Regions from separate parts of the Homo sapiens genome. Here all the other regions are linked to region 1. The links come from fine-mapping of genetic effects on gene expression. A gene starts in region 1. Each other region holds a variant in brackets. All regions are shown on one strand. Distances are between the middles of the regions. Region 1 holds the start of SPON2 (spondin 2). Region 2 holds the start of LOC124900164. Region 3 overlaps LOC124900647 (nascent polypeptide-associated complex subunit alpha, muscle-specific form-like).

The links.
Region 2: its variant is fine-mapped to the expression of SPON2 in whole blood (TOPMed, PIP above 0.99).
Region 3: its variant is fine-mapped to the expression of SPON2 in nasal epithelium (TOPMed, PIP above 0.99).

What each region holds. Positions count from the first base shown.
Region 1 is chr4:1,168,612-1,176,784 of GRCh38, forward strand. It overlaps SPON2 (spondin 2), which reads right to left and starts at 3,972. Exons shown (of 6, transcript NM_012445.4): 1 at 3,933-3,972; 2 at 3,241-3,463; 3 at 2,652-2,875; 4 at 2,388-2,579; 5 at 1,791-1,965. The coding sequence starts at 3,460. All of the region lies in intron 1 of LOC124900647 (nascent polypeptide-associated complex subunit alpha, muscle-specific form-like), which reads left to right. RefSeq lists enhancers at 3,152-3,867, 3,868-4,585.
Region 2 is chr4:1,200,199-1,208,371 of GRCh38, forward strand. LOC124900164 reads right to left here and starts at 1,059. Exons shown (of 1, transcript XM_047416479.1): 1 at 428-1,059. The coding sequence starts at 1,059. The coding sequence ends at 445. LOC100130872 (a long non-coding RNA gene) reads right to left here. Exons shown (of 4, transcript NR_024569.1): 2 at 4,784-4,918; 3 at 1,071-1,264. It also overlaps a transcript of LOC124900647 not described here and a transcript of SPON2 not described here. RefSeq lists enhancers at 490-709, 1,950-2,149. The variant G/A (reference allele first, on the strand shown) is at 3,506.
Region 3 is chr4:1,146,813-1,154,985 of GRCh38, forward strand. The region is part of intron 1 of LOC124900647 (nascent polypeptide-associated complex subunit alpha, muscle-specific form-like); the gene reads left to right. LOC124900837 (hornerin-like) reads left to right here. Exons shown (of 2, transcript XM_047416541.1): 2 at 1-6,888. The coding sequence ends at 1,348. Among named protein-coding and RNA genes, the nearest start is that of SPON2, 22 kb to the right of the region's middle. RefSeq lists enhancers at 2,946-3,446, 3,447-3,947. The variant G/A (reference allele first, on the strand shown) is at 4,102.

The DNA.
Region 1 (8,173 bases):
GCAGCCCACCTGGGGAGCACACAGAGCTGCTGGCAGATCCCAGCACCCCCCAGCTTCCTGACTGAAACCGAGGTGGTGGGAGCGCCCCTGCCCTGGCTGCAATGAGGAGTCAGTGAGCACTGGCAGTGCCTGTTCTACAGCGAGGGCCCCACCACAAGCCTCTCCAATGCTGCAGAGCCCTGTCAGGAGGCCTGGGGACAGGCATCCAGCGTGTGAGCAGGAAGCCAGAGCTGAGCCAGGCTGGCTTGGCGTGGACCTGGCGGAGCCTCCTGGGTGCCAGCCGCCACATGCCCATCCCAGCCTCTGCCCTCGGGAAGCCAGAAGTCACAGGAGAGACCCTTGTGGGCGGTGGTCTGTGCTCCGTCCCCACTGCCCACTCTGGTCCCTCGGCTGGCACAGCTGGCTCTGTCCGTCTCCCACCCTTCTCTCCATGTCCTGCCTCCTGCTCAGAGCTCATAGCACAGTCTCTCCCCACCCTTCCCCTGCAATACTGCTTCTGCTTGGCCACAGCTGACTTTATCCCTCTCCTAGCCCAGGGCACTGGCCATGTGCTCCCCTGCCCACTGTGGCCCAGTGCCCCCAAATGTGGGGCAAACCGCACCTCTCTGGACCCTCTGCCCACGAGGGGCTCTTCCCGCCAGACCAGTTGCACACCACGAACAGTGCTGGCACGTCTGCCTGTTGGGTAAGTGGCTCGGGGACATCTGCTTGGAATGGGGCATCCGCGTGGACAAATGAGTGAGGAGCCCAAGCCTGCACTGGGCAGGGGCAGCACCGAGGCTGGCACAGGGAGGCCCAGTTCATCCCAAATGAGGAGGGACCCAGGACTGGGCACAGTCTCTGTCTGGGGAGTGGTTCCCGCCAGCCAGGCGGCCTCCTGTCTGACCTGACCTGGCCCTTGCTTCCAGGGACGGCTGACAGTAAGCTTGTAATTACTGCTGCTCCTCAAGACGACATCTGTCCCTACCACATGGCTTGGGGGGCAGGTGTGGGGCGGCCCCGTACCTGCCTCAACTCCAGCCAGCAACATGGAGGGTGGAGGACGACGGGGCCCATGGCCAGGTTGGTGGGCTCCAGTTCCTCCTCGGGAAAGTCTGAAGTCCGCTGTTGTCTGGGGCCTACACTGACTGTCCCACACCCATATCAGGTGAGACCCAGAGACCCAGAGCCAACAGGCCCTGACCCACGACCCAGCAATGCGCTCCAGACCACAGGCGCTCCGTGAGGCCAGTGGCTGCCACCCAGCTGAGTAGGGAGGGAACTGCCACTCGGCCCCAGCGTTCCCAGCCTGCCCTGTCCAGCAGGTGCCTGGAAGAGCTAGGAGAATGCTCATCAGCACCTGCCCCGCCCCAGGCCAAGGCGCCTGTGAGCAGAGCCCCGAGCTGTGTGGTGGCTGGGTCCCGAGACCCCCACAGGTGCCCTGCAGCATAGCTGTCACCCGGTGGCCACACAGGGCCATCCTAGCAAGCTTCCTTGTCAGCTGTGACACACAGGTCACCTGTGGGTGCGTGTCTGACAGGACAGAGTCTCTCAGGTACTGTCTGGAGCCTCCTTTCATTCTTTCCTCTGGGCTGTGGCCCTGTAAGATGCTTTCAACTGCAAATAATGTGCAAGAGTCACATCTTCAGTGTGTGAATCAACAGAATCCTAAATCTTCTAGGCACCATCTTGCAGTACGCACTACGAATCCCTACTTGGAATTTCTCAGAGCCTTAGGTTCGGGTTTGGTGGTCGCCCTGTGGCAGGGTTCGGGGCTGCTGTGTGTCCCATGTGACCTGTATGTCCGTTACCTGAGGCGCTGTCTACAATCTCATTGTCCCTGCTGGGCAGGACTGGGGCGGGAGGGATGAAGGCCCTGGGGCTCTGTCGCAGCCGCACCAGTGTCACCCTGGCGATGGGAGGCAGGGCCTTCAGCCGCGGGTAGTAGAAGGAGTTGGCCGGGTGGCTGGGAGAGGAGGACGTTATCTGGGGAGGAAGAAGAGGAGGTTGGCCTGGGGTCCGAGAAGCCCACCTTCTGGTATGCGTATGGCCTCACTGGGGCCACTGCCCAGCGTCCAGCGTGCCCTCTGCACCACTGTTGGGGACAGGGTCCCATGTACTCCTCTCAGCCATCCCACGGAACACGGGCTGGAAACCGAGGCCAGGAAGGGGCAGCCTCCTCGGGACGCGCGTCCCGCTGTCCTCCCTGCGGTGCTGTGACCCCGGGTTGGGAGAGTATGGGAGGGCTGCACCCCCTTGCTCACTGCTGGCGCTAGAAGCAGAGCCTCTTCCACACAAAAGCCGCAAGCGGCTGTCCTGGGCTGGGAGGCGAGGGTGCAGCCAGGCCCCAGCCCCGTCCCCACCGCGGGGGCCATAGCGGCCCTTGCGCACGCGGGGTGCCCACTCACCTCGGTCACCGTGTCCTGCGGGATGGTGGCGAAGTTGGGGGAGGAGAAGGTGAAGCCGCTGTCCGTCCCGGCGTCGTAGGGGTACAGGTCCAGCGCCGCCTGTTCCCGCCAACGGTCCCCGTCGCACAGGTCCAGGCTGTCCACGCCCACGAACCAGTCGGGGCTGGGCACGATGCGCACCACAAACGAGACCTGCGGCGACAGCGGCTCAGCGCGCCTGGCCCCGGCCCCCCGGACCCCGCCCCCGGCCGGCCCCGCGCTCACCAGCGAGTGCCTGCGCTGCACCTCCAGCTCCGCCGACGTCTGCCCGGTGCCGCTGGGGACGGCGGGCGCCGAAAACACCGCGTGCACGCTCTGCAGCGCCTCCCCCGCCGCCTCGATCTCCTTCATCAGCGCCCAGGCCTCGCCGCGCTCCGCAAAGTCGCGCAGCCCGTTACTGACGTACTGGTTCTTCCTCCACATGCTGTAGTCGGAGCTATGCGCGGCCCCTGCAGGACCACCCGGCCGCGCCGCGGACCATGGTCAGACACTGCGGTCGGGCTTGGATTCCAGGGGGCGCCCCAGGAAATCCCTCCCCGCCGCCCGCAGGGAACCATGGCCCCCAGTCACGTCGGACCGTGACACCCTGTGGCTGCCCCTGCCGCGACCCACCTGCGCCCTCCCCGTGAGCGCCCCCTGCCCCCACCGCATCCCCGGAACCGCACACCGCAGGCGCTCGGCAAACATTCTGGTGTTAGAGTCTCCCGACGTCAGCACGCCCCAGACTGGGAAGCGCCGCCGTGCAGCTGTGCGGGGGGCTCCGGCGCCGCAGCCCTCCTGGTGGAGCAGGAGGCGAGGAGGGGGCTGTACTTACCCAGCAGCGAAGACCACTGCGCAGGGGGGCGGAACAGGGGGTACTGCTTGGGGAAGGCCGTCTGGCTCCACTTGCCCGTGAAGGTGATGCTGTATTTGGCCAGGGCTCTGGCGGAACAGATGGACTCTCCCCCAAGAGGCTGGCCGGCGGCGCCGAGAGTGGCCAGGAGGAGAGCGCAGAGGGCCTTGCCCAGGGCGGCGGCCGGGCTGGGGTTTTCCATCACCTGGGAGCACAGAGGGGAGCAGCCGCGCGCTGGCACCGTCGTGGCAGCCTCGGGGTGGAAAGCCGAGAGGGCTGCGGCACTTTGGGCTCTGAGGACGGCCCCGAGCACCCGCGACCCCCTCCCTGCTCCGCAAAGCTCTCCTGCGGTGCTTCCGAGACCCCCATCAGCGGAATGGACGGCGCGGGGTTAGATCGCCCGTGCGCCTGCGAGCGACCAGGGGTAACGGGCAGGTTTTCAGTCCGAGTCCCTGCAGCTTGCCGGGCCGGTCTGGGTGCGGCCTCCGGGATGCCTTCGCCGTCGCAGGGACCCGGGGCCTTGGCCGACTGGCTGCCCCCGGGACTAGACCCTTAAAGCTCGGTCGCAGCCAGTCCTGGGGGTCCCTCTGGAGGTGCCACAAGGTTCTGGGCCGCGGGGAAAGTGCAGGAGGCCCGGGCCCTCTCTGGGTGTCCCGGGGGCACGCAGTACTCACCCGGCAGGAGCAGCGGGAGCGCGGCCGGCAGCGGTCGGGTCCCAGCCAGAGCCCGGAGCTCCTATTTAAGCCCGAGGCCGGCGCCCCGGGCCGGCCAATGAGGCTCCAGTTCCTCCTGTCTTCGATGCTGCACGGCCTGGCCTCCAGCGAGAGGCAGATAGGACGTGGGAGAAAGGAGGAGAAGGGGCTGCGGGGGCGGCGGGGGCTGCCGCTTTCCCAACTCGCCCTGCCCAGCGACCTTCCCCGGGTCGGATCACCCTCTTCCCCTGGCAGTGCTGCCGCACCCCTTTCTTTGTCTGTCTGTCCTATCCCTCCCCTCCCCTCCCTGTCCCCTCCCTTCCCCTCCCCTCCCCTCCTCCCCTCCCCTCCTCCCCTCCCCTCCTCCCCTCCCCCCTGTCCTCCTCCCTCTCCCCGTTTCTCTCCCGTTCCAACAAGCGCCTTCCTGGTGCCTCCCTAGGTGCCACTGAGGGGAGTTCTTTGCCCCAAGCCTTTCGGGAAAGCTCAGGGCGTGGGGGCAGAGGGGCTCTTGTTTTCACCTTCTCGAAATTAGAGCCAGCGTGCTACACCTTCTTGCGCAGGGTGTGACCTGGAGAGCCCTGTGCGTGGCCTGACTTCAGTCTACATGCTGGAAGTGGCTGGGGAAGCTCCTGGCTCCCGGCGCAGGCATCCCTGGCCTTTGGGGCCCTGGCTTTAAGTCTCTTTCCTGGCATGGCCTAAAGCTGCACAGAACAGCCTAGCGGTCTGCACTGTGGCCAGAGGGCATTTGCAAGCCATCCCTCCTGGAGGGAGGTCAGAGTGGGCTGAGGGTCTGGGGTGGAACGCGCAGGGAGTCAGGAAGAGCCACAGAAAGGGGGCCCCCCTCCCCAGGACCCCGCACAGGGCTGGGGCTGCAGGCCGGCGGTGTGTGCGGTGCAGAGCCCTCCCAGGGGCTCTAGGCTTCCCTGCCTTTGGGATGAAGCTAACAGATGCTGAAGTTGATCCTGCTCCATGTCAGGAAAATATTTATAGGTCCCCAGTCATGGGATCTGGAAACAGAGCGGAGGAAGGAGCTCGGGAATGGTCTTGCTCAATCCTTCCCGGCCTCTGCTCATCGGAATCACCCAGAGGGCTTTTAAGCTTAGACAAAACACTCTGATGTTTGGAACCCTGTTAATGTTTCACAGATTCAAAAAGAGAGAAAAAATAAATAGAAGCAACTAGGACAGAATGCAAACAGAAACAAATGATCTAACCTGTATTTTAAGCGAAAACCACAGATCAGCCACTCAATGCAGTATTTAGACTCCAGGCCCCCAGGCCAAAGACAAATTTCCACCTCCGTGCTTCTCAAATGTTTTTATCTGAGGACTCCTTCATACTCTTAAAGGTCACTGAGGGCCAGGCGCAGTGGCTCATGCCTGTAATCCCAGCACTTTGGGAGGCCGAGGCGGGAGGATCACTTGAGCCCAGAGTTTGATACCAGCCTTGGCAACACAGGGAGACCTCATCTCTACAAAACATACAAAAATTAGCTGGGTGTGGTGGAGTGCGCCTGTGGTCTCAACTAGTCAGGAGACTGTGTCTGTGGTCCCGGCTACTCAGGAGACTGAGGTGGGAGGATCACCTGAGCCAGGGGAGGTCAAGCCTGCAGTGAACTGTGTGTGCCACTGCCCTCCAGCCTGGGCGACAGAGTGAGACTCATGCCTGTAATCCCAGCACTTTGGGAGGCCAGGGCGGGCGGATCACTTGAGGTCAGGAACTCGAGACCAGCCTGGCCAACATGGTGAAGCCCCATCTGTACTAAAAATACAAAAACTAGCTGGATGTGGTGGTGCACGCCAGTAATCCCAGCCACTCAGAAGGCTGAGGCAGGAGAATTTCTTGAACCCAGGGGGCAGGGGTTGTAGTGAGCCAAGATCGCGCCACTGCAGTCCAGCCTGGGCAACAGAGCGAGACTCCATCTCAAAAAAAAAAAAAAAACAAAAAAACAAAAAACAAAAACAAAAAAAACTAATTGAGGACACTGAAGAACTTTTTTGTTTGTATGGGTTATACCTATGGATACTTATCATTTTCTAAATCATAACAGAAATGTTCAGAATACTTGCCAATTCACTTAAAAATAAGAAAATATTGCTATTACACATTAACATAAATAGCATAATGTTTTATGAAAAGCAATCATACTTTTAAAAATGAAAAACCCGCCTGAGAAAAGTGGCGTGGTTCTACGTTGGTGCGAATCTTTGTATTGTCCGGCTTAGTGGAAGCTGGATTCCCATATCGGCTCCAGCACTTCATCTGCTGAGATGTGCTGTTGGTTGAAGTCTATGAAGAAAATCCAGCCTTGGCTGCGTATGTTACCAGCCTTGTCAGGTGCCTGCTCTGGCCTGCAGCCCTCGAAAGCCGCCGTGTGCCCATCAGAGCATGGGAGCAAAAGGTGCCCTCATGCAATGGGCTTCGATCTCATCATCTGCCTGGAAGGATCTCAGGCCCTCCACGAGTCCCCAGAGCAGGACTGGCAGCCGCTGCTCAGAGGCTGGACTCGAATCCACAGGCCTTTTTCCCAGAGCGGCATGGGGCGGCTGTACTGCAGCTACTCTGCATCCCTGGACAATCCTCGCTTTCTGGACAGCTTCCTCGGCTGAAAGGAGCACAGGCTCCATGGCAAAGCTACTGGCTCTGGGTCTGAGGAGAGGAAGGAGGCGCCGGGTCTGGGGCATGTTCCTGTGTAGGAAGCCAGGGTGCCGCTCCAGAGACTCGCTGAGGCACAGTCCCCATCTCAGTCCAGCTCTGGCCGTGGCAGCGGCTTCCAGGCTCACCCAGTCTCACAGGAGGCCAAGGAGGCTGCGGAACAGCCCAGGGGCAGCAGGAGCTGTTCTCCCAGCCCGGCCCTCATGCCGTCTCAGTGAGCTCTGCGACCTGGGGCCCCCACTTGGCGGTGGGCCCAGGCTGGGGGGTCTCCAGCTAGGATGTAGGGCGGTGGTGGGCCCAGGCTGGGGGGTCTCCAGCTAGGATGTGGGTGGTGGTGGGCCCAGGCTGTGTGGGGGGAGTCTCCAGCTAAGATATAGGGTGGTGGTGGGCCCTGGCCTGGGTGGGGGTTCTCCAGCTAGGATGTGGGTGGTAGTAGGCCCAGGCCTCGGGGGCTTCAGCTAGGATGTGGGTGGTGGTAGGCCCAGGCCTGGGGATCTCCAGCTAGGATGTAGGGTAGTGGTGGGCCCAGGCCTCGGGGGCTTCAGCTAGGATGTAGGGCAGTGGTGGGCCTAGGCCTGGGGGTCTCTAGCTAGGATGTGGGGTGGTGGTAGACCGAGGCCTTGGAGGTGCTCCAGGCAGGGCCACAGCTGATTTGTCTGGGAAGGGAGGGGGCTTGTTTGGAGGGCTGGAGTAGACAGCAGCCAGGAGGAACTTCCTTTGGTAGTGGGAGGCCCCTCCAAAAGCACGCCTGCGAAGGCCCTAGGGCACCAGGGGACATGGGAGCATTCTTTGCTGTGCTCAGAGAGGGGGACATGGGAGAACTGGGGCCAGGTGGGCTTAATTTTCTGGATCCTGTGGCCCCTTGGGTTGGATCGGGCTGGGGTCTCAGGCAGAGCTGTTTCTGCACTGAGGCAGGGACTGCAGGCCAGTGACGGAGTGATCTTGTGTGACTCCATGCTCTCAGAGTCTTGCTGGAAACCCCCCTGGCTCTCAGACCCTCTTCTGTGAACCAGAAGTCTCTATCCTGCCTTCTGCTGAGGGTCACAGGATAAGTATCCATAGGTGTAACTCACACACCAGCACTTTGCAAGGTGTCCCCCCACCCACACAGAAGAGTTCCTCTGTGCCCGCAGGCAGGAGCAGCCCCCCACATACACACACAGTACATTCATTCATTCACTCACACAGTACTTTCATTCATCCACCCATTCAAATAGTACATTCATTCATTCACTCACTCACACAGTACATTCATTCATCCATTCACACAGTACATTCATGCAATCATCCACACAGTACATTGATTCACACAGTACATTCATTCACTAATTCACTCACACAGTACATTCATTCAAGCATCCATTCACACAGTACATTCAATCATCCATTCACACAGTACATTCATGCAGTCATCCACACAGTACATTCATTCACTAATTCACTCACACAGTACATTCATTCAATCATCCATTCACACAGTACATTCATGCAATCATCCACACAGTACATTGATTCACACAGTACATTCATGCACTAATTCACTCACACAGTACATTCATTCAATCATC
Region 2 (8,173 bases), 32 kb after region 1:
AGGGGTGAGAAACGCTTCCCTGTCCACTGTCTCTGACACGTTCTTCCTGGGTCACCCCTCACTCAACACCCCCAGAGACCAGGCAGGCTCCACGGACAGTTGAGAAGGCGTCCAGCCTGCAGAACGGAGTCCAGGACCCAGAGAAGCTTCAGGGGTGAGCAGGGTGGGTCGGGGCTGGGGAGTAAATGACAGAGGGAGCAAGTGGAGGGAGGAAGGGGCTTCAGGACAGGAGGTGCAGGCTAAGCGAGGATGGCTGAGCCGCCCTGGTGTCAGAGCAGGGGAGGCTCAGCGGGGGCGGGGGCGGGCTCAGCCTCTGCGCTTCTGCCTCCAGGATGTTATGGATCTGGCAGGGAACGTGTAAACCATGAGCTCACCCCACGGGAACGTGGTTTCCTCTGGCTGCCCCCACAACAGCTGTTCCCCATCAGCACCGGCCCCATCTCCCTAGCAGGAAGCTGGGCAGCCACTGCAGGCCAGGTGTGGACGACCCTCACAACTCTCCCATCTGCGTGGACATCGCTGGACGGGGTGGTAAGGGGGAGGGGAGCAGCGAGGAGAGGGTGGGTGCAGCCCCCCACCCCTCTGGTCCCTGCCTTTGCTGTGAGCAAGTGGAGAAAGCCCAGCTCCTGGAGGTGGGGCCAAGTCTGCAGTGTCCTCAATGCCACCAACCAGGCCTGACCCTGACCACTGACTGAGCACCACGTGGTGCCTCTGCCCTGGATGTGGGCACCCCCGTGCCCTCCTGGCTCTGTTGCAGCAGACCTGTACGCCAGGGCCTTCTAGACGGTTCTGGCCCCTCCCGTGTGGACTGTTCCCACCATACCTGGTCTGGGCTGAGGCTTCCTGGCCCTTCCCCCTCCCACCCTGACGAGGTTGGCCTGGGGCGCCCATGGATGCACCCTGCCCACATGGCCCTCTGCGGTCACCCACAGCCAGCGGGACCCAGATTCCCTGCAGGCCAAATGCAGGTGCCCCAGTTCCTCCAGCCCCTCCCCCCGCAGTATGTGGGCAGTGACAAAGAGGGGGTGGGTCTGGCCCTGTGCCATGCTGGGGCCCCATGCCCGCCCTACCTGCCCTGAGTGTCCCGGCCGTGAGTCCCCAGCCCACTGGCTTCAGGCACTTCCAAGCCCCTTGCTCGCTTCCCTGAAGAGGCTGTGGGTTTCTCCAGGCCAGGCCTGTGGTCAGCAATGCAGGCAGGTGTTTGTGATCAGGGCATCTGTGCTATCAGGAACAGCCCCCAAACCACGCAGGGAGGGAGGAGGCCCTGAGAGAGAAGGTGCCGTTACATGCACGTGACCACAGAGAAGGCTGCCTTCACCCCGTCTGCACCCCGGGAGTGCCTGCCACACTGAGGTCCGCGCGCAGTTTCTGGTTTTCTGATGCTGACTTTTTTTTTTTTTTGGAGACAGAGTCTTGCTCTGTCACCCAGGCTATAGTGCAGTGGCGTGATCTCGGCTCACTGCAAGCTCCGCCTCCTGGGTTCACGCCATCCTCCTGCCTCAGCCTCCTGAGTAGCTGGGATTACAGGCGCCGGTTGCCACGCCCGGCTAATTTTTTTGTATTTTTAGTAGAGACGGGGTTTCACTGTGTTAGTCAGGATGGTCTCGATCTCCTGACCTCGTGATCCAGCCACCTCAGCCTCCCAAAGTGCTGGGATTACAGGCGTGAGCCACCTCGCCCAGCCGGTGCTGCCTTCTTGAGCCGTGGCCTCCACAGTGCTTCACCTGGCTCCCGCAAAACAGCTTCATTGAGATGAAATTCACATGCTCACAAGTCACTCTTTACAGTGTACAATTCAGTGGTTTTTAGCATGTTCACGAAGTTGTGCAACCATCCCCACTCATCTCACTCCGGAACACGTTCATCATCCGCAGAAGACGTCCTGTGCCTGTTAGCAACCGCTCCCCGCCACGGTTTGAGTGAGGCCACAACAGAACATCAGACAGCAGTTTATCAACAGAGACTTCCTGCCTCCCCGTCTGGAGGCCAAGGTTGGGTTCTCCTCTTCCACGATGGCCCTTGCACGTCGCATCCTCACCGGCTGGAGGGTGGGTCTGCCCCACAAGCCCTTTTCATGGTGGCTTTAGTCACAAGGGCTCTGCCTCGTGAGTGGATCAAACACCTCCCATCAGTCCCCACCTCCCGGCACTCCACGGGGTCTAAGTTTCAGCCTGAGCTTTAGAGGACGGAAACGTTCCAACCACGGCACTGCACGCCAGGCCCAGTACTCACCGCTCTCACATACAAAATCATATGAGTCAGCATTCTCTAGAGGGACAGGACTCATAGGATACATGAACAGGGGATGATCTTGGACTCCCTGCCCACCTTCCAGACACATGGGGGCAGGGCTGGGCCCCCACGGCTTCTGTGGGCTCAGCCCACTCAGTGCTCATGGGTCGGAGTCTCCTGCCTGCCGCTCTCCCAGGCTGTGCTTGCTCGCTGGTGGCCCTGCAGTCCTGGGGTCTCGGAGGCAGCCCCCACCTCAGCTCCGGTGGGCATAGCCTCGGTGGGGACTCCGAGGCAGCTCCAACCCCACGATGAGCCTCTGCCTGGGCCCCAAGGCTGTCAGCAACATGCTTTGAAATCTGGGTGCAGGCCACCATCGCCTGCAGTGTCAGCGCCCCGTGGATGCCGTCAAGGCCCCCCGCATGTGCCTTTGGGAGCGATGGTTGGAGCTGCGCCTGCACCTGCCTGAGCCATGGCTGGGGCGGCCAAGGAGGGCTGGGCCAGGATCGGGGGAGACCCAGGCAGGCAGTGAGCTCTGCGGTCCCAAAGGTGCCCCAGGGTCTCATCCCTTGCCATGATTCTGTCCTCAGGGCCCTTATAAAAGGGCTAGAAGGAACTAGCTTGGCTGTTTTTCCTCCGAATTCTGCCATGTGAGGCTGGATACGCCATTGGAGCTGCCCTCAGCAGACCCCAGCCTGCCGGCACCTGGATCTTGGACTCCCCAGCTTGAGAACTACAGGAAATAAATTTCTGTTGCTTATAAATTACTCAGTCTGAGGTGTTTTGTTACAGCAGCGGGGATGGACTAAGACCCTTCCCATTTTCCCCCAGCTGTGCCCTCGCCCCCAGCCCCGGGCAGCTGGGAGTCTACTCTGTGTCACCGTGGACCTGCCCATTCCAGACATTTGACATAAATGGTCTCATGTGATATGTGGCCGTCTGCGTCTGACCTCCTTCACTTGGCAAATGTTTGCGAGGTTCATCCACTTTGGAGCATGGGCCAGAGCTTCATTCCTTTTTACGGGTGAAGAATAGTGTGGGGCCAGGCCACAATGTGCCCATCTGTCCCTCAGCAGATGGACATGTAGGCTGTGCCCACCTTTGGGCTATTGTGAATAATGCTACCAGGAACATTTGTGGATAAGCTTTTGTGTGGATAAGCTTTTGTTTCTGATTCTCGGGGACGTGTACCCAGGAGTGGGATTGCTGGGTCACATGGAATTCGGCTTCACACTTTGAAGAACAGAACAGCCGCATGTGAGGTTCCCACGTCTCC[G/A]CCCTGACACCTATGATGCTTTCGGTTCCAGCCATCCCAGTGGGTGTGAGGTGTGGTCTCGTGTGGTTTTTATTTGCATTTCCCTGGTGGCTAATGGTGTTAAGCAGCTTGTCATGAGCTTGTTGGCTGGTCGCATATATTATTTGGAAAAAACATCTATTCAAATTCTTTTGCCTTTTTTTTTTGAGTTAGAGTCTCTCTCTGTCACCCAGGCTGGAGTGCAGTGGCGCGATCTCAGCTCACTGCAACCTCTGCCTCCCAGGTTCAAGCAATTCTCTTGCCTCTGCCTCCTGAGTAGCTGGGATTACAGGCGTGCACCACCACGTGGTGGCTAATTGTTGTATTTTTAGTAGAGATGTGGTTTCACCACGTTGGCCAGGCTGGTCTCAAACTCCTGACCTCAAATGGTCCCCCCAGCTTGGCCTCCCAAAGTGCTGGGATTACAGGCGTGAGCCACTGCGCCCGGCCTCTCCCAGTTTGCCCATTTTTTAACTAGGTTGTTTATCTTTGTATTGCTGAGCTGTGAGAGTTCTTTAGCACACTGGTTTTTCACTACCTTACCCTGGAGCCGATACACATCCTTTCTGCTCAGTCATTAGCCAGAAATGCAGAGAAATGCTACTGTGTGACCCCATGACCTCAGCCTGATGTGCAGGGGTCCCCAGAATATTAGACGGGCACTGACTGTCTGCAGGATACAGACCCGGGAGGGTGGCTTTGCACTGCTGATCTGAACACAGCCTCTCACTGATTCAAAACGTCCTTTTGGCGTGTCTGTAATGCCTGCGTGTTCACCGTTCGCATTGTTACTGTGAGCGACCCACGCACCAGCTCCACACGGGGCTCCCTAGGTGCAGCCTCCGGTGTGTGTTAAAACCTGGTGGCCACGGTTCCCTTGTTCATCTTTTGTTCCAGAATTTCCTTAGTTTTCTTACTTATTTTTCCACGTTAACTTCACAATCAATCTACCTGATTCCAGGGTTCTCCGGTGTTTTAATTGGCCCCGCTGTGGCAGCCGGCCAGCACGAGGGACGGCACCTCGTGACGCCCAGGACAGACCGGGCTTGTTGCTGGTCTGTGGTCCTCAGTCAGGCCTCAGACCCTCTATAACAGGTATAGATGTGCCCGCCGTTTGCTCCTAGAAATTTACAATTTTTGTTGCTGTTGGGAATGGTCCCTTTTCTTTCTTCATTGTCTCTCCTAACTGGAAGTGCTTGAATTTGAAAGATGCTGATTCCTGACTCTGAATTTTGTGCACAGCCACCCTCCGAAACTCACCTCTGCCTTCTAATCAGTTTTCCGGGTCTATGAGGAGTCGCAGCAGGCTGTGCTCGGGTGCAGAGCCTCTCTCCAGCCGTGTGCATGCAGCTCTTCCCGGGGCTCTTGGCTGTGAGGCCTGGCCTGTCCCTGTGGCTAAGGCGGAAGACCCAGCTGTCCCCTCCCTGTGCCCTCGCCACGCCCTCCCCGTAACGCTGACCAGACTTTGCACAGGGCAGGGCCCTGGGGGCACATGGACAGGAACTGGCTGTGGGTGGAGACAGCACCCGGCTGAGGTCCTGGGGAAGAGGCCATGCCCGGAGCTCCTGGACACAGGAGGTGGCGCTGGCTGAGGCCCGATGCCTGAACTGGGCATGGGGGGAGGCACCTTTGAGCTGGGGCCTCCTCGGAGCAGCTGCACCCAGGGGCAAACCCTGCCCCTCGGTTTCCATGTCCACATCTTTACTAGAACTGCAGCTGGCATCCGTGGAGCTGTGGGCTTTGTCCAGGGAGAGCCGTGCCCAGCACCTGGGGGACCCTGCAGAGGTGCTAAGGTTCAGGGTTAAAAACGAGGATCCTGGCCTCCCGCAATCCTGTCCCCAGAGGCCCCATCGGAGCCGCCTGGCCTTCCCTGCCAGCCCAAGCATCCGAGGCTTTTGCCAGCAGTGCCTACGGCAGCCTTGGGAAGGGTGGGGGCCCAGGGAGGGGCATCATTTGGTGTTGATCAGGGGAGATGCTGGCGTCACCACGGCCCCAGGGCCTCCAGGCCCGCCCAGGCTCCCTCACTCAGATGTCCCACCCACAAACACCTGACCAGGCCCCACCAGGGGCCCCTCTCACCCCTGAAGCTGTGCAGGCCCTCGGCTGACAAACTGGGACCCTCAGCTTGGATGGGCAGAAAGGTCCAGGAGGGGCCTCTGAGACCTCCTCGCTCGGGCCTGGGGGTTGGGGCCGCAGGAAGCCATGCTCCGCCCGATGCCCACCCCTAGCTCCCCTGGCTGCCTCCTGGCCTCTGTCTCCCTCCAGGCCCCCAACCCTGACCAGGGAGTGGGGGGTTGGGGGCGGAGCTTTTGGGAGGAGGCCACGCCCAGCATTGGGTTTGCATTTCCAGGGAGGGCTTCTCCTGCCTGGTCTCCTCCCCTGGTACTGGGCTGGGGGCTGTCAGGGTGACCCTGCCCTACCCAAGGCTGACCCGGGGCCATGAACAGGAGGATGCCCCCCTCCCTGCTCCTCATGTGTGCCCCCACGGGAGCCAGCGGGCAGCAGCTGGACCCCAGCAGCCTCTCAGGGCACCCAGGACTGGAGAGGGCCCTGCCAAGGGTCTGCGGGTGCCACTCACCCACCCGGCTGCAGCCCCCAGCTCCCCTGGGCTGACCGTGGGCCTAGGCCGAGCTGAAGGGGCTGGCGGTTGTCAGCCCTTGGTCTGGCCCCACCACTGCTCTGCCAGGGCAGGGGGAGGCCGGCAGCCCAGGTTGTGGGGCCAGAGGGCCACGCTGTGACAGACGAGAAGAGGGAGTGACCTGGAGGGCCCGGGGCAGGGACCAACAGCAAATGCCTCCCTAGGTGGTCTCTCCAGGACAGATGTGTCCCCTGTGGGAGGGCTGGGGCGCCCAGCAAAAGCAGCAGCTCCTCAGGGAACGGGGACCCAGCGGGCTGAGTGGGGCTCTTGGAATAGAAGGAGCCTCCCCAGGCTCAGCTCTGCAGGCGGAGAGGGGAGGCAGGGCCTGAGGCTCATGGTAGGGAAGCGGCCTTGCCCTGTGAGGTCTCCCTCAGGGGGCAGAAGAGCCGGGACCCCGCCAGCAGCAGAGAACAAACCCCAGTCTAAGGCGAACCCCAGGTGTGGGGTAGGTGTAAAAGCAGATGGCTTTGACCACGAGTGCACAGGTGAGGGGCAGACAGGTGTGAGCAGGTGTGAGCAGGTGAGGGGATAGGTGGGAGACACATGGAGGGTGGGAGGAGATAGGGACAGGAGAAGAGGCAGTGGGGGCAGGTGTGGGGCAGGTGTGGGGCAATTGGAGGTGGGTGGGGGTGGATGGTGTCATTTGGGAGTGGATGGGGTTAGGTGTGAGCAGGTGCAGGGCGGGTGGGGAGCACGGGGAGGAGGCTGGAGTTGGTGTGGGCAGGTGCAGGGCAGTGCCCGGGAGGCACTGTCAGGTGAATGTGGGGCTGGGCAGAGGCTGACCTGGGACGCCAGGGCTGCTGCTGAGAACCTGCTGTCTGGGCAGGCAGCCGGGCCCCGCCAGGTGTGACTGCCCACTGCACAGAGGGGGTGGAGGCCGGAGGCCTAGACGCCTGTAGGGGCTGGGAGGGATGTGGGTGAGTCCGGCTGCTCGACACCCTCCGTCCCACCAGTGTCCACAGCCCTGGCCCCGGCTGGCCCCGGCGTCCCCACAGTGGGCACCCCCAGCTGGAGCCAGCTTGCATCAGGGACCTGGATAGTGAGTGGCGAGCCCTCCACAGTGGGATCCTACAGACACTGCTACCACTGACCAACGGGGTCAGTAGCTGGTTTAAAAAAGAAAGGGCAGCAGAGAGGCCACCCAGAAGAGCCGCTGTTTCCATGTGCCGCGCTTACACATGCTCCAGAGGGTCCGGCTGCCTAACCATGCGCCGCGCTTACACATGCTCCAGAGGGTCCGGCTGCCTAACCATGCGCCGCGCTTACACATGCTCCAGAGGGTCCGGCTGCCTAACCATGCGCCGCGCTTACACATGCTCCAGAGGGTCCGGCTGCCTAACCATGCGCCGCGCTTACAGATGCACCTAACCTTATATTGTTCAAGTCTCATGTCCTGCCTATCAGGGATGTTTTCGGACCCTACATGGGAAGCCCTTGGCCCGTTTGAAGGTCGGGTCAGGGGGCGGCTGAGGCTGTCCAGGGCAGTGGTCAAGGGCTTGGGGAAGCGGAGGTAGACTCACCAGGTGCTGGTGCTCAGAGGGGCCGGGGAACACCCACGCCCTGGCCGGGCCACCCCGTCCCTCCTGGTGCTTGATGCCAAGGGGAGCGGGTCAGGCCGCGAGAGGCCCAGGGCCAGCCTGGGGAGCAGAGCTGCTCAGCGGGGCAGAGGTCCTCCTCCGGGCGCCGGGCTCAGGGCCCAGTGGCCAGATGGTTTTCTTTGCTGCAGGGAGTGCCGGCTGCGGGGGTAGGCCTGGGAGGGCTCATGCAGCTGCTCTTGGGTTTCTCTGCTGTTGTTTTTTGCTGGAAAATCAATCCTGCAAGTCCAGCTGGGCTCTGGCTGAGAGCAGCTAGGGGTGGGGATGGTGGGTGCTTCCCGGCCCCCACGGGGCAAGTTCTGGGCCCACAGTGGGGAGAGAAGGCAGGATGGGGTGCAGGGCCAGCCTGGGGTGGGGCCCCGAAGAGCCTGGCTCCCTGCCCTGTGCCCTGCTTGGGCCACCCCAGAGGGACTGTCC
Region 3 (8,173 bases), 22 kb before region 1:
CAGCGAGAGTTTAGAATGCTGTGGATATCATGGAAATGGCACCGATGGGGAGAGCTTAGGACGCCGTGGATATCATGGAAATGGCACCGACGGGGAGAGCTTAGAATGCCATGGATATCATGGAAATGGCACCGATGGGGAGAGTTTAGAACGCCGTGGATATTATGGAAATGGCACCGATGGGGAGAGTTTAGAACGCCGTGGATATCATGGAAATGTCACCGACGGGGAGAGCTTAGAACGCCATGGATATCATGGAAATGGCACCGACGGGGAGAGTTTAGAACGCCGTGGATATCATGGAAATGGCACCGACAGGGAGAGTTTAGAACGCCGTGGATATCATGGAAATGGCACCCACAGCGAGAGTTTAGAACACCATGGATATCATGGAAATGGCACTGACAGGGAGAGTTTAGAACGCCATGGATATCATGGAAATGGCACCGACAGGGAGAGCTTAGAACGTCGTGGATATCATGGAAATGGCACCAACAGGGAGAGTTTAGAACACCGTGGATATCATGGAAATGGCACCCACAGCGAGAGTTTAGAACACCGTGGATATCATGGAAATGGCACCCACAGCGAGAGTTTAGAACACCATGGATATCATGGAAATGGCACCGACAGGGAGAGCTTAGAACGTCGTGGATATCATGGAAATGGCACCAACAGGGAGAGTTTAGAACACCGTGGATATCATGGAAATGGCACCCACAGCGAGAGTTTAGAACACCGTGGATATCATGGAAATGGCACTGACAGCGAGAGTTTAGAACACCGTGGATATCATGGAAATGGCACTGACAGCGAGAGTTTAGAACACCGTGGATATCATGGAAATGGCACCAACAGGGAGAGTTTAGAACACTGTGGATATCATGGAAATGGCACCCACAGCGAGAGTTTAGAACACCGTGGATATCATGGAAATGGCACTGACAGCGAGAGTTTAGAACACCGTGGATATCATGGAAATGGCACTGACAGCGAGAGTTTAGAACGCTGTGGATATCATGGAAATGGCACCCACAGCGAGAGTTTAGAACACCGTGGATATCATGGAAATGGCACCGACGGGGAGAGTTTAGAACGCCGTGGATATCATGGAAATGGCACCAATGGGGAGAGTTTAGAACACCATGGATATCGTGGAAATGGCACTGATGGGGAGAGTTTAGAACACCGTGGATATCATGGAAATGGCACCCACAGCGAGAGTTTAGAACACCATGGATATCATGGAAATGGCACTGACAGGGAGAGTTTAGAACACCGTGGATATCATGGAAATGGATTTCAGAAAGGCTTTTGTATGTTAGTTTTCAGCCAAGTCAAGAAGTGAGATGCATCCACATCTGGCTGCATGCTTGTAATTAGAATCTGACTTTCAAATTCGTCTCAATGTGTGTGGAAGTCTTAGAACCACAGTTCATCCTGCAGTTTGTTCAGTTCTGATTAAAAGCACTCACTCCACATGTGCCAGGCACTGCAATAGGCTTTGGGGATACAAAGGTTAATAGAAGAGTTCATGCCCTCAAAGAGCTCATTCAGTCCTAATACACCTTCAAACCGGAAGTGTCCCTGCTGACACAGAGCAAAATGACCACTTTTATGAGCGACATGAAACTGGGAAGGGGACCCAGATATCCTCCTGTCCCCATCCCCGTCCCCCAGCACAGGGCCTGTGTCCCAGCAGCCTGCTGGTAGACCAAAGCAGCCAAGGTAAAAGGCCAATCCCGGCTCTCCCCCCAGCCAGCTTCGCACCACTCAATCTGTGGGAAATTGAGGGCATCATATTTGGACCATGACTTACTTGTGGTTGTTTGTTTAATTGGTTTTGATGAGTTTGGTTTGCTTTTCTCTCCTTGTACGATTTGCCCATTTTCTGTCCTCGGTTTTTCCATGTCTGAGTAATAGTCTTCTTTTGTCTTATGCCCATCCCCCGTTTTTGCCAGAGCCTTCCACCCTCCTGCCTCAGTCTCCACAGCCTGCTCCCTCGGCCTCCTCTGGGCTGGCTGTCCTGGGTCAGCGGTGAGTTCTTCTTTCTTGGGTTACATGCTTTGCGGCTTCTTTGCTGAATGCAGTCAGGGGCAGGGGCAGGGGCAGGCCCAGGGAGCTCGCCTGTCTTGCCCTACAGAGTCTTCAGCTCCCAGCTCTTAGCTTGACCCAAACGAGATACTTTCACGCATGTGTGTTACAAACTGGAGCAAAACCGCGCACTTGGCAACTAAGGAGAGTTAGCCTGCAAAGAGAAATCTGGGATGGGTGGAATCTGTGACTTCAGTTATGACGGACTTTCAGGTGAAAAAATGTGTATTTATTTTGAGTGGACCCAGATGGCAGAACAAGGATGATTGGATACAGTTGTGGAGATGTAGTTCCTGCACTATGGACAGCTGTGGGCTGTGCTCCCCGGCAAGGAAAAGGCGAGCAGCCACCCCAGAGCGCCAGTGCAGAGGCTCCCTTGGCACTAGGGTGTGGGGCAGGTGTGGGCTCCTCCACCACAGGGCAGTGGGTGAGGAGCACCAGACCCACAGGATGGCTTCCAGGACCAGTCTGTAGCTCTTGGACTTTAAGGGCATACTGTTCTCTTTTAAAGAAAAGTTAAAACTGTGGCCTGATGCGCCTTTTTTTTTTTTTTTTTTTTTTGAGATGGAGTCTCATTCTGTCACCCAGGCTGGAGTGCAGTGACGCGATCTCGGCTCACTACAACCTCTGCCTCCTGGGTTCAAGTGATTCTTCTGCTTCAGCCTCCCAAGTAGCCAGGACTGCAGGTGTCCACCACTACTCCTGGCTAATTTTTTTTCTTCTTTGTATTTTTAGTAGAGACGGGGTTTTACCATGTTGGCCAGGCTGGTCTTGAACCCCTGACCTCAAGTGATCACATGCCTCGGCCTCCCAAAGTGCTGGGATTACAGGTGTGAACCACCATGCCTGGCCCTGATGCACTTTCAAAGTTTTCCATAACAGTGAGTTTTAAGTAGCCAAGCTCTAAATCTAAATAATTGCCCAAGGGTGATGGTTAAGGAGACTGCTGAGTGGGAAGAACAGAGAGTAGGGAGGCTTGGGAAGACCAGGTGAGGAGGAGCAGTCAGTCAGAGAAGAGCCTTGGCAGGAACTGAGGAGGGAGGCGTGGACAGCAGCATCCGTGGGAAGGAGGACTCCAGAGGCTCCTGACTTGGGTGAGGGAGCCAGCCACAGTGGGCCCTGGTCTTCCAGCCAGATGGGACCGCTTGCCAGAGGATCCTTGGGGTGTCACATTTCTAGCTGGAAACTTCTGTGGCTGGTGGCACCCTTGCCCGAGTTTTGCTTGGGCCCACTGGGCTTGTTCTGCCCACTCAGCCTGGCATGCTGCACTCAACTCACGCTACTGGCCTGGATCCCACACCTGCCAAGAGCGAGTCAGGCACAGAGCAGTGAGGGGTGTGTGAGTGAGCATGGGGTCCAGCCACTGTGCAGTCAGGCACACCCGCAGCTGCTGCAAGGTGGGCAGCTCCAGTGCTGGCATGGGCGCCCACTCTCTGCAAGGCTGCAGCTGGACCAGGTGCACTGCAAGCAGCTTCCACAGCTGGCACTGGGGAATGCAGTATGCCAGGAACCACAGGGCCCCAAAGAGGGAGTCCAACTCAGAAGGGGCAGGGCTCCTGCTTGTTCCTGGCCTGGGGGGCTCCCAAGTCTAGGCTCCCTGAAGGGCTGCAGCTCTTCTCTCCTTCTCTTCCCCCATAGCATGGCAAGCAAGGGGCATGTCTCAGCCCTGTTTGTGTTATACCAGCTCTTTTAGCCTTGCCATTTGACGGGTCCCAAGTTCTTGTCCTGTGACCAGGAAGAATGAGGTCTGCAGACAAGTGGAGGGTGAGCAAGAGGAAGACGAGCTTTATTGAGCGATACAACGGCTCAGAGGAGACCCGCAGGGGCAGCTCCTTTCCACAGCCAGGGTGTCACAACGCGTGTTCAGCTCCTAGCACAGAGGAGACCGTAGAGTGGGAAGCTCCTCTTGGCAGGCAGGCCATCCTGTCATCTCTGAGGCTCTCAGCAGAGAGGAGGCCCTGGAGTGGGTTGCTCCTGTCTGCAGACGGGCCATCCCTTTGTGCCTGC[G/A]GCTCTCAGCAGAGAGGAGGCCCTGGAGTGGGCTGTTGCTCTCTGCAGGCAGGTCCTCTTGTTGTCTCCCCAGCTCTCAGCAGAGAGGAGGCCATGGAATGGGTAGCTCCTCTCTGCATCTGGTTGCCCTGATGTCTGCTCAGCTCTGGTTGAGCCTAGGGCTTTTATGGGCCTTAGAGGGGAGGAAGTGCACTGTGATTGGTACATTGGCAGTCATGGGTAAAGGCACCAGAAGTTCCCACTCTGGTCTGCAGGACTGGCAGCCCAGTCCCCAGCCTTCAGGACCTCCCTGGCCTGAAGGTGGGGGCCTCACCAGGGACCTGCCCTCTTCCACCCAGGAACTTGTCTGCGTCCTGCTGCTATTCATGGTGTCCAGGCTATAGGTGCCAAGGGGTGCCTGCAGGCCAGTGCCAAGCTACCCTCAGCCCACCCTTGGCTTCCCTCCTATTCTCGGTGCTTAAAGTCTGGAGGGTGCTGAGGCAGCAGGGGGCTGGTGTATTAGCACTGCCCTGAGCGTGTGCACACCTGGCCAGGCTGCAACAGTGCCCAGGCTCGCCCTGACTTTACTCTGAGATCAAAGTGGACACTGACAGCAGGGAGAAGCCAGGCAGCAGAAGCAGGCACTTCCAAACCTGCGAAGGCCGGGGATGGGGCTTCCTGGGCCCCCTAGAGTGCAGAGATGCCTGGGTCTGCAGCCATGGTTTGGGTGGCTGTAGCTGCGCCTAGGAGAGGGGCTTCTCTCTGCTCCCGGCTTCCAGGAGCACAGGGATGCCTGGGTCTGCAGCCATGACTTGGGCAGCTGCATCTGTGCCCAGAGGGGTGGGGCTCCTGCCTGCTCCATGGAGCAGAAGGCCTGGATCTGCAGCTGGGACTTGGGTGGGGCTTCTGCCTGCTCTGTGGAGCAGGAGGTCTGGGTCTACAGCTGTGACTTCAGTGGCTGCAGCTGTGCCCAGGAGAGTGGGGCACCCATCTGCTCCCGGCCCGAGAGCACAGGGATGCCTAAGTCTGCAGAGAGCTACCACCCAACTCGGAAGGGGCAGGGCTCCTGCTTGTCCGCAGCTCCTGCCAGTTCCATGGAGCATGCAGCCCTGGCTGTGCCTCCCTGCTGCAGCTGGCATGATGGCACCAGCCACTTTAGATGGACCGTGGTGTCATCACTGAGACCCTGTCTTGACACAGCTGTCAGGACACTCTCTAGCCACACTTGCCTTCCTGCTGCCAGTGCCGCCGTGGCTCAGGTGGCTGCAGTTCCTTGAGATGTCCCAGTGGGTCCTGGGTGAGCCCATCCAGCTGATGGGCCATGAGGCAACAGGCAAGTGGACAGGCCAGCACTGTCCCCCTTCCTCTTCTTCTGCCCCTTCAACTGCAGGCTGGAAAATTCATATGTTACCAGGAAAACAGCCGGCTACCCAGGGCTATTTACCTCAGGGGCCAAGCTTCCCGTGGGATGAGATCGTTGGGCTCAGAGAACGTGTTGAGCAAACACAGTACTTTCTGTGAGCTGGGTTAGGTTGTAAAAGCCTTACAAAGAGTAACCTAATCATCAGCACAACCAACAGAAATAGATGTTTGTTTTTTTAATCATCATTGCATTTCACAAATTAAACAGAGGGTAAGTCACTTGCCCAGTGGCACACAGCTCTCAGGTGACAGACTGGGATTTGGATCCAGGCAGGCTTGTACAGACTCCAGAGTCCCAAATATGGCTTCATCCACAGTGTCGGAGCAGCAGCGAGGGCTCTAAGACCACCCAGCTCTCTTCCTGGCTATTTTTTCCATGCTACTCATCCCAAAACTTGATCTCACATTGCTCTGTTTCTTTCTCTGCCTCCATGCTTGATGCATTTACTTAATCTTTCGCAGGATGGGTCATTACTTTTTGCAATAGCACACTCAAAGGTAATGACCAAGATAAATTGAAAAGAGGATTCAACAGTATTCATTGTAAGATTGAATGGGATATAAAATACGTAATCAGCACTTGTGAGGAATATCACTAGATTCTCTTCTTCCTACTCCCCCTCCTTTTTTTTTTTTTTTTTTTTTTGCATTAAAACCCGGGAATTTGATGTTGATTGTGGCCTAAATGTTAAGCATATTCTGGATTTTCTACACCGTTCTGACACCACAGGTACTTGTTTCTTTCTCAGAAGGCAGGTGAAGCTCAGCTGTGTGGGGCTGTGCTTGGTGGCAGTGTGGGAAACGTGTGGAACTCACCATGGTGTTAGCAGCTTTTACTAGCCGTTTGCTTGGAAAACAGTCTCCGATCTGCACTTGCACACCCACCACGATGCCTTCTCCCCATGGCTCTGTGGACACCAGGAGGTCAGGGCACAGAGGACGTGCGACTTGTGCTCCTGTCTTGCTGCACAGTCTAAAGACCTCACGTACGTTTTGAATGTTCAACCACTATTAGAGTGAGAAATGGCATCCAAGATGCTTTTACTGAGGAACATTGACAACTGGAAAACAAATCAAGCTTGGATTCCAGGGAACACTGTCCAGATTTCCTGTTTTATGAATTTTACCATTCACTCTTAAGGCTGTTAGGTTTGAATAACTTGATAAATGATCAAGAGAAAACCATGCAGCATTATGTTCACTGCCAAGTAATATGGACGTAGAGGATGGCAGAATTCTGTAAAACCACTTCTGGAGTTCAACATTTAACCGAGCACATTTTACTTACCTGTTACCAGTGTGTCGCTTGGAATGTCTTCTATTAGGCATTTCTCCTCACGTTCCCCTGCGTGGAAATAAAAGGCAGTTGAAAATGGAAAACCAAAACATAAAAGAAATGTTAACATTTGCATTTCTGTTGCTTGAGCCACTTCTGATAATACTTTCTTTGAAATGGATCCGTTGCAAGTGCCACTGGTTAGTGGGTGTTTGTATTTCACTGGCTAATTTTGTAAAATTGATTTTTGTGAGAAGTGACACGTGGCGCTGACACTGGGCAGATACTTGCAGCAAATCCGACGAACAAGATAAAAAGGCGTAAGAATTTGGGGCCTTTCCAAGCTGATGATGCAGAGTTCTTTCTGATCCGCCACTGAAAAGATGTTGAAGCATTCTGATGGAGTGAAGAAGCTTCTAATGAAGATGGTGTCATGGAGTATGAGAAATGAGAGATGGGGAGGCAGGTGTAGGCAGGAGGGGAGGGAGGCTGGGTGTGGGGGTGAGGCTAGGCATGTCGAGGGGAGGCTGGGTGCGGTGGGGAGGCTAGGTGTGGGGGGGTGTGGCTGGGTGTAAGGGGTGAGTTTGGGTGTCTGGGGGGAGTCTGGGTATGTTGGGGGAGGCTGGGTGTGTGAGAGGAGTCTGGGTGTGTGAAGGGAGTCTGGGTGGGTGGGGGAGAGCTGGGTGTGTGGGAGGGAGTTTGGGTGTGTTGGGGGAGGCCGGGTGCCGGGGGAAGGCTGGGTTGGGAGGAGTCTGGGTGCGGGGGAGGTGGGTGTGGACCTGTGGGTGGGAGGAAGGGAACCTGGCTAAAGTGGAACCACCTGGACTAGGAAGAGCGCGTGCCCTGAAGAGACTAAGTCTGTTTCCTCATTTAAAAAAGGAGTGAAAATCACTTAGTGATCCATTAGGTCTTTTCAGCTGCGACATCCGGTGTTTTCTCTTTAAACCTTTTATTTAAAAATGTCTGTAGACTAACAAAAAGTTACAAAAATAGTGCAGAGGTCCTGTGACCCATTCGTCAACGCCCCCAGTGCAACGTCTTATGTGACTAATCACTGCAGGACTGCATCACGGGGACCGGGCATTTGACAGTGGCAGAGAACAGCTAGCTCGGCTGCAAAGCTCACGTGCTCACATTTTTGCACACGCTTGTTTTTTGTATGTGAGTGCACCATCATGAGAATGCTTCAGCGAGCCCTTTTGAGCACTCTGGAAAGAAGTGGGAAGATGGAAAGAATGCATCGTGTGGTTTGGAGCAAGTGCTGGCAGCCGAGGGCCTGGGCTGTCTGACTACACTGCTTCTCAGTGACGTGAGTGTGGACAGATCGACGGACCTCCGGGCCGTCACCCATAAGGCAGGGGCAGTGCATTGTCGCAGGGATTAGATGACACAGGC